Linked DNA regions of Homo sapiens: region 2 is linked to region 1. A link means that fine-mapping ties the variant in region 1 to the expression of a gene that starts in the linked region. Tissue or cell type: whole blood. Region 1 holds a variant in brackets; the other region holds the start of a gene. All regions are shown on one strand. Distances are between the middles of the regions.

Region 1 (8,103 bases):
GAGTGGGTGGGGGGTGGGAGGCCTGGGTATGTGTGGGTGTGGGGAGGATGAGTGGGTGGGTGAGTGGGTGGGTGTCAGGTCTGTGGGGGGAAGAGTGTGTGTGGGTCTGTGTGTGTGTGGGTGGGGCGTGGGGGAGCTGGGTATGTTTGGGTACCCCTCCTCTCCTGGGAAGTATGTGTGATCCATTTTACAGATGAGAACACTCAGGATCCGAGAGGCCACAGTTCATAAGGTAGAGGTGGGTCTGTGTCTCAGAAGCCAGTGCCCTAACACACTGCCACCAGCTGAGGTGTCCAGGCCGATTCCCGGGAGCACCCTGAGCTCTTGGCCACCACCCTCTGTGAGTGACAGCCTCCCTTCTCCTCCCCAGCTGTCCTCGCTCAGCCGGCTCCTGGGCCTCATGAGGCCATCATCTCTCAGGCAATACCTGGACTCTGTGCCCTTGCCACCCTGCCAGGAGCAACAGCCAAAGGCTAGTGCCGAGCTAGACCACAAGGTGAGTGAGCACCCAGCACCCGCCTGCCTCCACCACGGTGCCACCACCACAGGTAGCAGGGAAAGGCAGGGCTGTCCACATTGCATGGCCTGCGGGTCCTTCCAGAACCCCAGGGCCATGCCAGGGCAGAGACCAACAGGCTGCCTCCCTGTGTTGAGCAGAGGTGCTCAGCATCTCACCTGTAATTAGTGCTGTTACCCGTGCCGCAGGCGCTGGGGACGCCCTGTGCGCAGGTGTAGGGGCCAAATGTCTGCCTGTCCCTGCTTGTGTGCCTTTTGTTGATCTGGGGTTGTCAGCCTTACAGCATGGTTTAGGGAGGATGCAGGAGCTGGATGCCAGGGAGGGGATGGGAGCACATCAGGATAAGCGCAGGGTTGTCTCGACGTGCAGGGCATCCCTTCTTCTGTAGGCAGAGCTGGGCCCAGCCTCCCTGTTCATTTTCACTGTGGTTGTCACTGAGTCTGAGTCCTTGGCCTGTCCCCAGTTCTTCCTAATTGACTTTCCAGACATTGCCCAGCTTTCCTGAAAGCCAAGTTCTGGTGGGAGTCAGGAGCAACAAGGTGCCCCAGGGCCTGCAGGTTGTGGAGTTTGGAACAGTGAGGCCTATGAGTCCCTGGGTGAATGTCAGAGCAGGGATGTGGTGGGTGTGAGGGCTGCAGAGTGGGCATCCCGGGCTCAGCTTCCTGGGGAGCAGGGCTTAAACCTCGATGTACTCTGCTGCCCCTGGGGACTCGGGAATGAAGAATGGAGATAGGGATCGTTATAATTGGGGAAGATGGTAATTCCAGAAACTCACTCGGAGGCTGGATGTTGATACAGAAGTCCAACCTTTGGGCATCACTCTGCAAATCAGATAAATGAATTAATTACTTAATGAACACAAATGAACCATTAAAGAGATATGCTAATCCCCAGGTGCACGCTCCTCTTCTGGAACATGTGGGGAAGGTTGTCTTTCAGTTGTGCCTAATATTAGTGCGTTTATGAGGCTGCTGCCTCCCAGGAGAGCGTGAGCTGTCTGCATGCCCCTTCTCTTGTGCCAAGTATTTCCCCAGAAACTGGAGCTGGTTATGGGCTGGTTATGGGGCCTCTAGAGAGGAGGTGGGGGTCAGTCCTGGGGTGGTCTGTCTAAACAGAACTCAGGGAGGCCTGGGCAGGGAGCAAGGAACAAGAAGGCGAGTGGTGAGAGAGAGGAAAGAGTGTCACGTCTGGTCTGGCTAAGCGGAGAGTGTGGCCTGCAGGCACCTTGGGGGCCAGTCCTGGGCCTCACCTAGCAGAGGTGTGATTCCTGCCAGGCTCACTCTGGTACAGAGGCTATCCAGGTGGCAGAAGACATTCTTTCAACAGCTGGGGAAGAGGGACAGTGAGCAGGCTGAGGATGCCTTTTCTTTAGAGGACTATTCTCACACACCTAAAGGAGGTTTGAAAGCCTCCCCCTGGTTGGCCGCCATATTGGAAATGACCTGTTTGGCCTGAAAACATGGAGGCACCGTGCAGCTCGGCAGAGCCCCAAAGGGGTAGGGTGCACTGGTCCAGGGCAGTGGAGAGGCAGGCGAGTCCCAGGCAGCTCTCAGAAGCCTTCACTGCAGCCCGAGACCACCTTAGACCCCCTCTGCTGCGCTCCCCTACACCTCTGCCTCTGAGTGAGGGAGCCCCAGGCCAAGGAGGGTACATGGGCACAGAAGTGTGAAACAGGCCCCTGGGCTGGGTTCTGTCCCCTGGGCTGGGCACTGTTCTGACTGGGAGGGGCCAGGTGGGGCAGGTGACTGGGCTCCACTCCCACCCCGGCCGGATGACTCCTCATTAGGCCTCAGCATGTTTCATCTTCAAAGAGGTTAGATGGGCCACTCACCAGCCAAAAACAACAGCGGCGGCATCCACCCTGTTTTATAAGGAGTGGTGGTCTGAGCCGTGGCTGAGCCTTTCATCCCCAGAGCTCAAAGTCTTTGCCTTTTCGTTTCCCTTCAGTGCCATGGGGAAACTGAGGCCAGAGTAGGGTTGACCTGAGGCGGCCCAGCCTGGAGGAAATGCCTACTTTCCCAGCGTTGGGGCTGCTGAGCTGAGCCTCTGCCTTTTGACGCCTACCCATCCCCCAGGCCCTCTCACTCCTGTCTGGGAGATTTCCTGCCCTGTGCGGCTGGGTCACAGCCCTCCTCCAGCCCTGCAAATAAACACTTCTGCCCAGCTCCTTCCCCACCTCCTCTGGCTGCCTCAGGCCTTGGCCCAGCCTCTCCCTCTGGGAAGAGGCTGAGAGAGCTGCTGTTGGTGTCCAGGGCACAACTTTCTCTCCTCACTGATCCCTTGGCAAGTAAAGTTGTCCCTTTGCTTGCCCCCTGTCCAGCTAGACTGTGGGCACATGCAGTGTCTCTAGCACTGCGTCCCACATTTGGCACTAGGTGAACGAATGAATCCAGTTTTAATTCCTTTGTCCTTCTCTGAACTCCCTTCTTCCATTCTGTTCTGGCATTCGCTGTTCGCTCTCCTGCCCCCATTCTGGAAACCTGCTGCCTCCTGTGTGCCATCTGACCAGCCTCTGCATCGTGGTCCCCTTGTCTCTTAAGGTCTTTGTATCATTAAGGCCACAAGAGCTTATAGCCTGGCCTTCTCCTGCAGGAGGCTCTGGACTAAAGAAGTATTACCTGCATGTGGCAGAACCAATCCCAGCACATCGTTTGTAATTATAAGCTAGTGAGGTCCTGCCTGGGAAAGCACCAAGTACTTCAGCAAAGGAAGCCATGAGCTCCTGCTGCAGCTGTGCATGGGGGTCAGGAACTGGAGTGAATCAGGGGCAACATAGATGCCTGCACTGGCCGTGTGTCCTGGCTTTGACCACAGTCCTAGCTGAGCAGGCAGAGCTTATATGGACTATAAGAGCTTCTGTGGACTATCCCGCTTAGTGAGCTGATAACGTTTTTAGCATTTTGAAGAGCTTCTGGATAAAGAAAACAAAGCTGAGCCGCTTTTGGTTATCTATGGCCCTGTGCATGCCTGGTTTGATCTGGGCTTTATTCTCAGAGAAGAGTAAACATCTGGTTTGGAGTGATGCTTGGGGGTCTGGTACAGCCATGTGAGAGGCAGAGGGCTTATTTGGCTGACAGTGGTAGAGGGTGTTTTCCTGTGGGAGAGTTAACACAGGAGAGTTTAATACTTAGAGTTGGCCTCTAAGTACTCCCTTTGGCCCATGGATACCAATTCGCCCCAGTTGCCTTCCCAGGCAATCAAGGGAGACTGTTCTTTTGGCCGCAGGCAGAAAAACATTGCATAACTTGACTCAATTTGCCACTGTCTCTCCAAGCTACCACCTGAGCCCACCAACCCAGAACCAGGGTCTTCTTGGGGCAGTTTATTTCCTCGTAGCTGACTTGTATAAACCATATCTGGCCAGATGTTTTCTGGTGTGTTCTATCCAGCCTCAGGGCTCAGGGTCATGGAGGTCATGGCCTATTCACTCTTTTTTTTAAACAGGGCCTGTCTCACTCTATTGCTCAGGCTGGAATGCAGTGGCGCCATCAAGGCTCACTGCAGCCTCGCCTTCTCAGGCTCAATAGATCCTCCTACCTCAGCGTCCCAAGTAGCTGGGACAGGCACATGCTACCACACCGGGCTAATTATTTATTTATTTATATTGCTTGATTGATTGATTGATTGAGACGGAGTCTTGCTCTGTCGCCTAGGCTGGAGTGCAGTGACTGACTGGATCTCGGCTCACTGCAACCTCCACCTCCCAGGTTCAAGCGATTCTCGTGCCTGAGACTCCCAAGTAGCTGGGATTACAGGCGCGTGCCACCATGCCTGGCTAATTTTTGTATTTTTAGTAGAGACGGGTTTTGCCATGTTGGCCAGGCTGGTCTCGAACTCATGACCTCAGGTGATCTGCCCACCTCGGCCTCCCAAAGTGCTAGGATTACAGGTGTGAGCCACCACGCCCAGCCAATTTTTTTTTTTTTTTAATAAAGATGGGGTTTTGTCACGTTGCCCAGGCTGGTCACAAACTCCTGAGCTCAAGCAGTCCTCCCACCTCAGCCTCCCAAAGTGCTGGGATTACAGGCATGAGCCATCTCAACGGGCCCCAATTCAATTCCATCGAGATTATTGATATTTTGGCTGTCAAAACCTGCTATTGCATATTATACTCCTCGTTACCACACTTCCTTATCATTTCTTGCTTTTCTTTTTGCTCTACTGATGCTCTATTTTTTTTTGTATTTATTTATTTATTTATTTATTTATTTATTTATTTATTTATTT[G/ATTTG]AGACAGAGTCTTGCTCTGTCACCCAGGCTGGAGTGCAATGGCACAATCTTGGTTCACTGCAACTTCTGCCTCCCAGGTTCAAGCGATTCTCCTGCCTCAGCCTTCCAAGTAGCTGAGATTACAGGTGCCCACCATCATGCCCGGCTAATTTTTGTATTTTTGTAGAGATGGGGTTTCACCATGTTGGCCGGGCTGGTCTCAAACTCCTGACCTCAGGTGATCCACCTGCCTCGGCCTCCCACAGTGCTGGAATTACAGGTATGAGCCACCGCACCGGGCCTACTGATGTTCTATTGATGAGGTTTTTTAATTCTGTTTTTCCCCTTAGGGATTTGGGAGGCATATAGTACAAGGATCTTTATGGTGGGATGGAAGTTTTTCTCCCGGTTGGTTAAATTTGGGGACTGTGAAGTTGTTAATTATTTCCCATTGTATGGAAAGAAACTAAGGACCACAAAGGGGGATGGTCCCAGAGCTGGGGCAGAGTCAGGCACCAGGAGCCTGGTCCCCATCTCCCCAGCTGCCCTCTGGGCATGTCCTCCTCCCAGCCAGATGATGTCCCCAGTGGATAACAGCTAAGGGGCAGTCTGTGGGTTCTGCACCTGTTATGGTCCCTGCGGGGGCACCACCCAGATCAAGGCCCCCGACTGAGCGCGAGTGGCTCTAGTCAGCTTTCTCGAGGTGCACACCACTTAAGGTCCCCAGCTCATGCTCCTGAGGCCTGGGGATGTGTGGCTTGTTTATTGGAGAAGTGCATTTGTACAGAATGGAGTTGTTGGCGGGGAGGGGGGGTGTGCTCCAGGGATTGGGTGATGCTCTGGGATAAACTCAGCCCAGCTGTGCCAACTCCACTGCGTTCATGCTCATTCTGAGTAGCTCTGCTCATGTTCTGCAGAGGGTGTGGCCTCTGCTGTGTGTTTGTGCATAAGTGCGTGCTGTGCACATCTCCTGTATATCCTTGTGGTGTGCCGCGTGTGTTGATAGAGTTGGCAAACAAGTTTTACTGCTTCGCTCCCGCTGCTGTAACTGCAGTTGTCTGTCCCTGTGCTGGGTGACCCTGCCAAGGGCCGCCTTAATGGGAGGTTGTGGAGAAAGGCCTGGCTCTCACTGCAGGGCTAGGCAGGGAGGGGGCCGCTGCCCTCTGGCAGCTGTGTGCTTGCCTCTGCCCTCTCTTGCTGGCATGCTCAACTCCAGCAATGGGACATGTGTTCCCCTGGGCACAGGCCACTTACCCTCTGTCCCCCTGAAAGGCAGGTGGAGCCTCTTTCTCCATTCTCGCCATGCTCTCTGCCTTCCCACCTGGAAGTGTCTGTCTCTTCCTTACTGCCCCACTGGGCTGGGGACCTTGGTCAGGCCAAGGTCAGGAGGGCTGGGAGGAAACCGACTGGTTTTGAGGAACAGAAAATGGATATTCAGAACTTGTGAGTTCCTCTCCTGTCTAATCTGTGGTTGGTTCTGTCTTACTTCCTCCAAAGTACAGAACATCAGACATCTTTAAAAATAAACCTCAAAGAGATGGCCTCTGGGAAGCTGACCCTCCAGGAGAGGGGGACCTCTACAGATCTGGGGACAGGCCAGTACTTCTGGGCATCCCAAAGCCAGGCAGGGCCCAGGCTCAGGCCAGCTTTGTTTGGGTCCCAGAAATTCTGGTTTCTTTGCAAGTGTACGAGCAGGCTTGAAGTGAGAGAGTTAAGCTGCGGAGGCAGGCTTGAAGTGAGAGAGTTAAGCTGCGGAGGCAGGCTTGCATTCTTCAGCCAGCTTTTGCTCAGGGCCTTGGCAGCACCCGGGCCTGCTCCCTGCCCCACCCCACCCAGGCCCAGTCCTCCCGGAGACCCTTCGGGGCCTCTCTCCCTAGGCAAGTGACTCATCAGCTTCCAACCTAACACTCTACCTGGGTCTCCTCATCCTTTAACTCTTCCTGGACAACGCTGTGGATTATCTTCTTCTCGTTCTGAGTTAGGAAAATAGACTCTAGTGCCTGTCACATCGTATGAAACTGCAATCCAGAGCCTCCGCCAGCTGGCCCAATGCATGGCTTCACTGCTGCACATCACACTGCGACATTTGAATCCAAGCAGTGATGCTCTCCCAGAAACGCTCTGTTCTCAACGCCGCGTCTTTGCTCCTGCTGTCCCTCCTTCCTGCGGAGCCCAGACTGTCTCTCCCGTCCTTGGATTGCTACGGGCATGGCTCAACCCGTGGCTTGTTTACATCTTGCTTCACATACTTGAACAGCTACCTTTTAGGGTCAATCCAGAGTCTCACCTCAGGCACAACCCCCATGGCTCCCCCTGAAATGCCTCACCCTGTCTAGATACAGTGGCTCAAGCCTGTAATTTCAGCACTTTCAGAGGTTGAGGCAGGAGGATCATCTGAAGCTAGGTGTTCATAGACCACCCTGCACAACATAGCGAGACCTTATTTCTGCAAACGGTTTGTTGTTGTTGTTGTTGTTGTTGTTTGAGATAGAGTCTCGCTGTGTTGCCCAGGCTGGAGTGCAGTGGCATGATCTTGGCTCACTACAAGCTCCGCCTCCTGGATTCACGCCATTCTCCTGCCTCAACCTCCCGAGTAGCTGGAACTACAGGCGCCCACCACCACGCCTGGCTAATTTTTTTGTATTTTTAGTAGAGATGGGGTTTCACCATGTTAACCAGGATGGTCTCGATCTCCTGACCTCGTGATCCGCCCGCCTCTGCCTCCCAAAGTGCTGGGATTACAGGCGTGAGCCACCGCGCCCGGCCAAAAGGTTTTTTTTTAAAAATGAGCCAGGTTTGGTGTTAACACGACACGGTGGCATACGCCTATGGTCCTAGCTACTCGGGAGGATGGCTTGAGCCCAGAAGTTCAAGGCTGCAGTGTTTGAGGCTCCCAGCTGTGCACCGAAGACGGCCAAGCACAGTGGGGAAGGTCCCTTACACGCCATCCTCAGTCTGCAGGAACAGCTCCCAGGCCGACCATGGCCTTCTCAAGTGCTCTCTGCGCATCACGTTTTCTGTCCCTTCTTCCCTGTCTTTGCCAGGAGTTTTTAGTGACGGAAACACAAACACAAATCCTGGAAAGCCCTGGGACAGTTCATCAGACTTAGAGGGACCCAAGGGCTAAACAGTGTCAAAAAACCTCAGTGTCACACCCTCCTCCTCCGGGCTCTGGCCCTTGGCGCCTTCCCAGGCAGGCTCTCCCCTCCTCCAGGCTCAACAGCCTTCCCTCAGCAGCCCTAGGCAAGTGACTCAGCTTCTAACCTAACACTCTACCTGGGTCTCCTCATCCTTTAACTCTTCCTGGACAAGAAAGAGCTTCGGCCCTCGAATCGTAACCAGAATGGCGTCTCATTGGCTTGGTTTGGGTCAGGTGCCCG
Region 2 (8,103 bases), 780 kb before region 1:
CACACGGACTGCCCTCACCGGGATGATCTTGACCACTCAGTTTTATGACCCATTATTGTACAGAGGAACCAAGCCCACCCTCCTAAAGATCATAATGCTCCTGGAGACTGGCCTAGAGTAGAAGACTTCAGATCATTCACACAAGCTTTCACCCAGCCTTATCTCTGCACAGAAACAGTATGAGGTGCTGGGGGTTCAGAGAGGAAGGTGACCTGGTGTGTGGTGTGCCTCCCCGAGCCATCTAGATAGCGGGAGAGGCAGAAGTATATACAGATACAACCAGACATGACACAGCCACACAGAGCTACAAAGCAAGGGCCAGGGAAGACAGGAGGGGAAGAGCTCGGCCTGCTGGGGAAGAAGTGGGCCCTGCTGGTAAGGGTGGGTTCTGGATTCAGTTGACCACAGTATTTATTGAGACCCAAGGTCACTCCTGTTCACCGACATTCGATGTCTCTGTCAACTTCCTTCACCAACAATCTGGCGCTCATGATCTCACTCCAGCCCTGGTAGGCCAGTGTGTGACATGCAAGACACCTGGAAACAGCATCTAGGAAACACTAGCTCATGAGCTACAAGCATCATGAAAAGCCCTTGAAGCAGTCATTGAAGGGGTGCTGCAGACCAGCCATAGCCCACACCAAGATCACACATGACTCACACACTCCACCCCACGCTTCGTGCCACTGAAGAAGGATGTGGAGCAAGGAGCCCAACCCCAGCACTTCCTGGGATGTGACTGCCTGGGACCCGACAGACACAAAGGGGAAAGCTGTCCTCAGAGAGTTTTGAAGCTTGTGTAAAAATGTTCTATATGAAAATTGTACCCACAAAAACAGGGGTAGGAGCCATGGGGGCAGAAACAAAGCAGAATAGATTCTATAAGCTCGGAAATCTCTTTGTTTATAAAGCTGTTGCTAATTCACAAGGGTTACATTTTTGAAATATATTAAGTTCTCCTTCCCTTTTAAGTTCTCAGGTTTCTGGCTTCCCTGGGAAGAAGCAGTTTTACTTTCCCTTCCAGGCTTTCCTTGCTAAGTCACAGAAAACAGTCCTCACAAAGCCCACTCATCCTGCATTCTCAGTGCATTTCCAGGGCTGTTGGTCCTCGGTGGTTTCCACTCGCTTGATGTAACAGGAGCTCACCACAGAGACACCAGAAAATGAACCATCGGGGTCACCAGGACAATGAGGAGCTGCTCTCACCACCTGTCCTTGATGACCATGCTGACCTACGAGTCCCTGGAAATGCTGCCCAGAGGGAACTGCAGAGTTGAGCCGTGGCCTCCAGTGCCAAGGCCCACCTGGTGTGAGCTGGGCTGGTCAGTGGACTCTTGAGGGGTGATGGGAGCTTCCCAAACCCCCAACCAGACTCCCATCTTCAGATGCAATCACTCCCCTCCTACACATATGGGGCCGAATTCAGAGACACTGGGGTCACCTGCAAGGCCGAGAACAAGGCTTCTGCCTCCTAGACAGCAGGTGCTGAGGGCACAGCTAGGGGGACTGCGAGTGCTACCTGCATCTGCTCATGCATCCCCTCCTGGTCACCTGCCAGGCAGTTGTCTATGCAGACTGCCCGAGGCCTCTGTGATGGCTCCCGTGGGGAGGAGCAAGCCCAGCGCTCCTGACACGGACAGCTGCCGGAACGGAATAGAGGCCCATCGGGTGTCGAGAGATCTGCTCCCTTGCAAGCAGGAATGAACAGGCATCGCTCTGTGATCCAAATGCCTCCTAACCCGGGGGGAAGCATCAGCGCCACTCTCCCAGTTGCTCCTTCTCACACCTAAGGTGACCCTCAACCTTCACTCCTGATGCACAGCCCAGGCACCCTCAGGAGAGACTTCACTGGCCTTTGGACAGCTTCCTTCAGCAGACAGCTGTGGTTCAGAACCCTTTTCTCCGTCTCAGCTCTCTGCTAAAGACTTCCCTGGGCCTTAGTTTTTCTCACATGTTCAGTGGAAGGTTCAGAGTGGAGACCAATGAGTCTCAGCCTAGTGTCCCCTGGAGGGTTAGAAAACTACAAATGTGAAGGTCTATCCCCACACCCCAAAATCTGATGTGGGGTGTGTGTGGAATGTCTCAATTGTTAAAAAGAGGATTGCCCCAGGGGTTTTCATGCTCAGTTAGGGCTGAGAACCCCTGGAGGAGGTTCAGCTCGGCTTTGGGGCCTCAGAGCAGAAACTGGCGAGGCAGGTGTGTCACAGCTAGTGTGAGGTGGCATCTGACGCCGCAGTCCCACATGGCCCTGCTCTGCTCCACTGATGCTCAGTAGGGTCCTTTTGAGGTGTTTATCATCTGTTTTGCTTAATTTCCTGAGACTGTGACACGTAGACAGATTCTAGCCTCAAGGAAGAGCACCTGCCTTCCCTTCACAGCAGCGGGAACAGGTTACCTGGGAGACAATGAGGACCATGCACGCAACTCTTCAAATCCAGCCTGAGGTTCCACAGGGAGTGGGGTAACTCACCAAAGATTTTAGCCAAACCTTCATCAGGATTTTTTGAATTTGAGGAAAATTCAGGCCAGGTGCCGTGGCTCACGTCTTTAATCCCAGCACTCGGGGAGGCTGAGGTGGGAGGATCACTTGAGGTCAGGAGTTCGAGGCCAGCCTGGGAAACATAGGGAGACCCCCGACTCTACAAAAAATAAAAATTAATTACCTGGGCGTGGTGGTGTGCACCTGTGGTCCCAGCTACTCAGGAAGCTGAGGCAGGAGGATCCATTGAGGTCAGGAGTTCATGACCAGCCTGGCCAACATGATGAAATCCCATCTCTACTAAAAATTATATTTTAGTAATTACTAATTTACTAGTAACTTACTAATTTAGTAATTTATTAGTTTAGTAAATTAGCCAGGCGTGGTGGCACACGCCTGTAATCCCAGCAACTTGGGAGGCTGAGGCAGGATAATCACTTGAACCTGGGAAGCAGATGTTGCAGTGAGCCAAGATAGCGCCACTGCACTCCAGCCTGGGTGAGAGAGCGACACTCCATCTCAAAAAATTAAAAAATTAAAAATTAAATAAAATTAGATAGTGATGCTTCACAACTCTATGAGTATACTAAAAACCACTGAATTATATACTTTGTAAAGGGTAAATTTGGCCAGACATAGTGGTTCATGCCTGTAATTCCAGCACTTTGGGAGGCCAAGGTAGGAGGATCACTTGAGCCCAGGAGTTTGAGACCAGCCTGGGCAACATAGTGAGATCCCTATTTCTACAGAAATTTAAAAAATTAGCTGGGTGTGGTGGTACATGCCTGTGGTCCCAGCTACCTGGAAGGCTGAAGGGAGGATCCTTGGGCCTGGAATGTTGAGGCTGCAATTAGCTGTGATTATGCCACCGCACTCCAGCTCTGGGTGACAGAGGGAGAACCTATCTCAAAAATAATAACAATAAATAGAAAAATAAAATAAAGGGTGAATTTTATTATATATTATATCCTATAAAGTTATTACTAATTTTTTTTTTTTGAGACAGGATCCCACTCTGTTGCCCAAGCTTGAGTGCAGTGGTGTGATCACGGCTTACTGCAGCCTCGACTTTTTGGGCTCAAGTGATCATCCCACCTCAGCCTCCCTAGTAGCTGGGACCACACGCACGCATCACCATGCATGGCTAATTTTAAAATTTTTTATACAGACAGGCTCTCATGATGTTGCCTAGGCCTGTCACAAACTCCTGAGCTCAAGGAATCCTCCTGCCTTGGCCTCCTAAAGTGCTGGAGTTACAAGAGTGAGCCACTGTACCCGGCCTAACCCTGTTATTTTTTAAATAGTGCATATATATAGATAAAATCAGGAGGGTTAGTTAGCATATGGTGGTTCTTTATACTAATCTTTCTACTTTTGCATATGTTTGGAAATGCTTACAGTGAAAAGTTAAAATACGCATGTATGCCACCCTCCTATAGAGCTCTGAATTTTGAGAAAGCTTCAAAGTTAGGAAAATGTTTTCAGTTACTCCCTTCCCCCAAGTAATAAACCCTGAATGGCAGATTTGGGGAGGTATAGAAGGTAGAGTAGGTAAAGCATCTGTGTTCCCCACACTGTGGGAGGGAACGCCCTCCTCTGCCCCACTTAGGCTTGAAGTGAGGCCCATGTTTCTCTCCAGCTGCCACAGCAATATACCTTGGATCCAGCAGAGAACAAAGAAGAGGGCCATGGCTCTGCTCATCTTTGCCTTAGTCCATAAACCATCATGGAGAAGCCAGTCTTCTGATGGCCCTTCAGATTCAGCAGCTGTGGACTCCAGGGTACCACGGAACCTAACGGTCTATGAAGTCATACACGGAAGTGAGGTGGAGCCTGCTCAACCATGAGAAGGGGAAGGGCCTGTGTCTGTGGACAGTGACGGGGGCTATGCTGGTGGCCCTGAAGTGACTGCCTCTCTGCTCACTTCCCTCGGCTCCCTGGTGCCTTCCTCCATCCTGCATGTCCTGAGGGCAACAGGATATTAACCAGGACTCTGAAGTCACAAGTGATAAAACTTCAACTAAATTGGCTGAAGCGAATTGGAAGTAGCTAGAATAGCCAGAAAAATCCTATGATCAATCAAGACATCACAGCCGGGCGCAGAGGCTCACACCTGTAATCCCAGCACTTTGGAAGGCTGAGGCAGGCGGATCACCTGAGGTCAGGAGTTCCAGACCAGCCTGGCCAACATGGTGAAAGCCCGTCTCACTAACAAAGTGTTGCTGCTTATTATATTAGGTAAAATTATAACACCAAAAATAGCATAGACCAATTGATACGCCCATTTTGTTACTCACGTGTCACTATTTCCCTCTATTACATTTTATAAGTATTAAACTGTTTTCAAAGGAAAAATCTATTATAGTACCTTGTACTACACTTTTTTCTAGTTTTTTCTCCATGTTCATTTTGTAATGGGTCCCACAAATTATGTAGCCAGCCCTGCCCTTGAGCCTTCATGTTCTTACAGTGTCTGTTCCATGGCTGAGATGGCAGATATCTTTTAGGGGTAAAAACTTGCACAAAGAGTTATATAGGGCCGGGCACGGTGGCTCACACCTGTAATCCCAGCAATCTGGGAGGCCAAGGCAGGCAGATCACTTGGGGTCAGGAGTTCAAGACCAGCCTGACCAACATGGTGAAACCCCATCTCTACTAAAAATACAAAAATTAGCCAGGTGTGGTGGCGAGTACCCATAGTCCCAGCTACTTGGGAAGCTGAGGCAGGAGAATCACTTGCACCTGGGAGGTGGAAGCTGCAGTAAGCCAAGATCACACCACTACACTTCAGCCTGAGCAACCGGGCGAGACTCTGTCTCAAAAAAGAAAAAAGAAAATAATCTGCATAGAAGTGGACCCGCACAGTTCAACCCTGTGTTGTGTAGATGCTGACTGAATCGTCTCCCAGTTCTGGAGGCTGGAGGTCTGAGATCAAGACGTCAGCAGGGCTGGTTCTTTCTGAGGCTGTGAGGGAAGTCTCTGTTCCAGGACGTGGGCTCAGATGGCCATCTTCTCCTTGGGCTTGCAAGACATCTTCCCTCCATACACACCTGAGTCCACATTTCCTCTTCTAAGAACACAGGATCATATCGGATTAGGGCCTGCCCTAATGACTTCATTTTAACTTGATTTCCTCTGTAAAGACCCTATCTCCAAATACAGTCACATTCTGAGGTTCGGCGGGGTGGCTAGGACTTCAACATATGAAGAGAGGGTACCATGTAATCTGTAACAGCAGGTCATGGTAACCACAGAAATCTTATTTCTCTAAAATACCTTCCAAAACAAAAACAAAAACTAGAATAAAAAATAACAAAGAATATATAAAACAACACAAAACCCACACCCTCACCACAACCACAGGACAGAAAATGTCCAAATTCCAAATGACTGGTAAATAGAAAAATAAATGCTAACCCGGGCTCCATCTCTTTTGCTTCTGCTGCTGGCCTTTGCAAAGAGGAAACCTGGAGGTTGAAGAGGGTCTAAAATCTCCATCCTGAGTTTGCAAATGCTGAAAGCGTAACCTGGTTGATCAGTACAAATACCCAGGGGTGGAAGTGCCCTGGGGACAGGAGATTGGTGAGACTCTCTCACCAATGGACTCTCTCTCCCTCTCTAAAAAAACAATGATGTTTATTCAGGAACGGGCATTACAATGGGAATAAGTATGGATGTGTTCCAGGAGGTAAAGGAAGACATTTTTTAAAGAAAAAATGAAAAGGGTTACATAGGCTTTTATAAGACAATCATCTTTGGGGCCAGGCACGGTGGCTCACACCTGTAATCCCAGCATTTTGGGAGGCCGAGGCAGGCAGATCACAAGGTCAGGAGATCGAGATCATCCTGGCTAACACGGTGAAACCCCATCTCTACTAAAAATACAAAAAATTAGCCAGGCGTGGTGGTGGGCGCCTGTAGTCCCAGCTACTCGGGAGGCTGAGGCAGGAGAATGGCATGAACCCGGGAGGCGGAGCTTGCAGTGAGCCGAGACCGCACCACTGCACTCCAGCCTGGGTGACAGAGTGAGACTCCATCTCAAAAAAAAAAAAAAAAAAAACTTAGCTGGGCATGGTGGCGGGAACCTGTGATCCCAGCTACTAGGGAGGCTGAGCCAGGAGAATTGCCTGAACCCGACAGGTGGAGGTTGCAGTGAGCCCAGATTGCGCCACTGCACTCCAGCCTGGGCAACAGAGAAAGATTGTCTCAAAAAAAAAAAAAATAAAAAAGAGACCTGAAGGTGCCTCATATACTGTTCAGAGACATTCATGCATATAACAGTCTACACTCGGTGTCTGCTTTCTCTTTGCTTTTACTTAGCAATGTGTCCTGATATGTTTCATATGAAATTATATAGCACTCTCTCATTATTTTTAATGGCTACACAGTGATCTATTTTATGAATGTATAAACACTAGATGCAAATGAATACATACCAATGACTTCATCTGCACAAAGTCCAGAAACAGGCAATACTAATATGTTTTCAAAATTCAGGATAGAGGTCACCTCGGAGGAGGAACAGGTCAGAGACCAAGGGGTAGGAGCTGACGGGGGGGCTGTTCATGCTATTAGGAAAACAGGAGCCTAGGAGAGACAGGGTGACACCATTTTAAAATCAACTGCTTTTTTTTTTTTTTTTTTTTTTGAGACAGAGTCTGGCTCTGTCACCCAGGCTGGAGTGCAATGGTGCGATCTGGGCTCACCGCAACCTCCATCTCCCGGGCTCAAGCCAACCTCCCACCTCAGCCTCTGGAGTAGCTGGCACTACAGGCGCACAACATCATGCCCGGCTAATTTTTGTATTTTTTGTAGAGACAGGGTTTTGCCATGTTGTCCAGGCTGGTCTCAAATTCCTGGGCTCAAGCAATCCACCCACTTCAGCCTCCACAAGTACTGGGATTACACGCATGAGCTACCGTGCCCATCTCAACCCCATCTTTTTTTTTTTTTTTTTTTTTGAGACGGAGTCTCACTCTGTCGCCCAGGCTGGTGGCGCGATCTCGGCTCACTGCAACCTCCGCCTCCTGGGTTCAAGCGATTCTCCTACCCCAGCCTCCTGAGTAGCTGGGACAACAGACGCATGCCACCACGCCCAGCTACTTTTTTGTATTTTTAGTAAAGACAGGGTTTCACCGTGTTAGCCAGGATGGTCTCAATCTCCTGACCTCGTGATCTGCCCGCCTCGGCCTTCCAAAGTGCTGGGATTACAGGCATAAGCCACCGCGCCCGGCCCCAACTCCATCTTAAAACTAGCAAGGCACATTCCTTGCTAGTCCCAACCCATGGTCATAAGATGCTATGGCTAAAAGAGCAGTTTAGTAATGCCTGCAAGGACAAAATCCTACAACAACAAAATGTCCAGATGCTCCAATATTGCCTAACAATATATGATTTAAGATAGTTATAGTTACAGGACTCGATGGCTCACACCTGTAATCCCAGCACTTTGGGAGTCCAAAGTGGGTGGACTGCTTGAGCTCAGGAGTTCGAGACCAGCCTGGGCAACATAGCAAAACCCGGTCTCTACTAAAAATACAAAAAAATTACCTGGGCGTGATGGTGCACACCTGTGGTCCCAGCTACTTGGAAGGCTGAGGCAGGAGGATAGCTTGAGCCTGGGA

Which allele goes with the higher level. Alleles are on the strand shown, and positions count from the first base shown. SD is a standard deviation of normalised expression in the study named.
For the expression in whole blood of the gene that starts at base 4,257 in region 2, G is the low allele of the variant in region 1 and ATTTG is the other (large effect, 0.95 SD a copy in TwinsUK).

What was found. PIP is the estimated chance that this variant, and not a neighbour inherited with it, causes the effect.
Region 2: C2orf92 starts here. The variant in region 1 is fine-mapped to the expression of C2orf92 in whole blood (TwinsUK, PIP 0.95).

The regions. Positions count from the first base shown.
Region 1 is chr2:96,886,319-96,894,421 of GRCh38, reverse strand. It overlaps FAM178B (family with sequence similarity 178 member B), which reads left to right. Exons shown (of 17, transcript NM_001122646.3): 14 at 371-496. Among named protein-coding and RNA genes, the nearest start is that of SEMA4C, 20 kb to the right of the region's middle. RefSeq lists a silencer at 3,236-3,530 and an enhancer at 6,265-6,820. The variant G/ATTTG (reference allele first, on the strand shown) is at 4,745.
Region 2 is chr2:97,665,867-97,673,969 of GRCh38, reverse strand. C2orf92 (chromosome 2 open reading frame 92) reads right to left here and starts at 4,257. Exons shown (of 8, transcript NM_001351368.2): 1 at 4,136-4,257. The coding sequence starts at 4,181.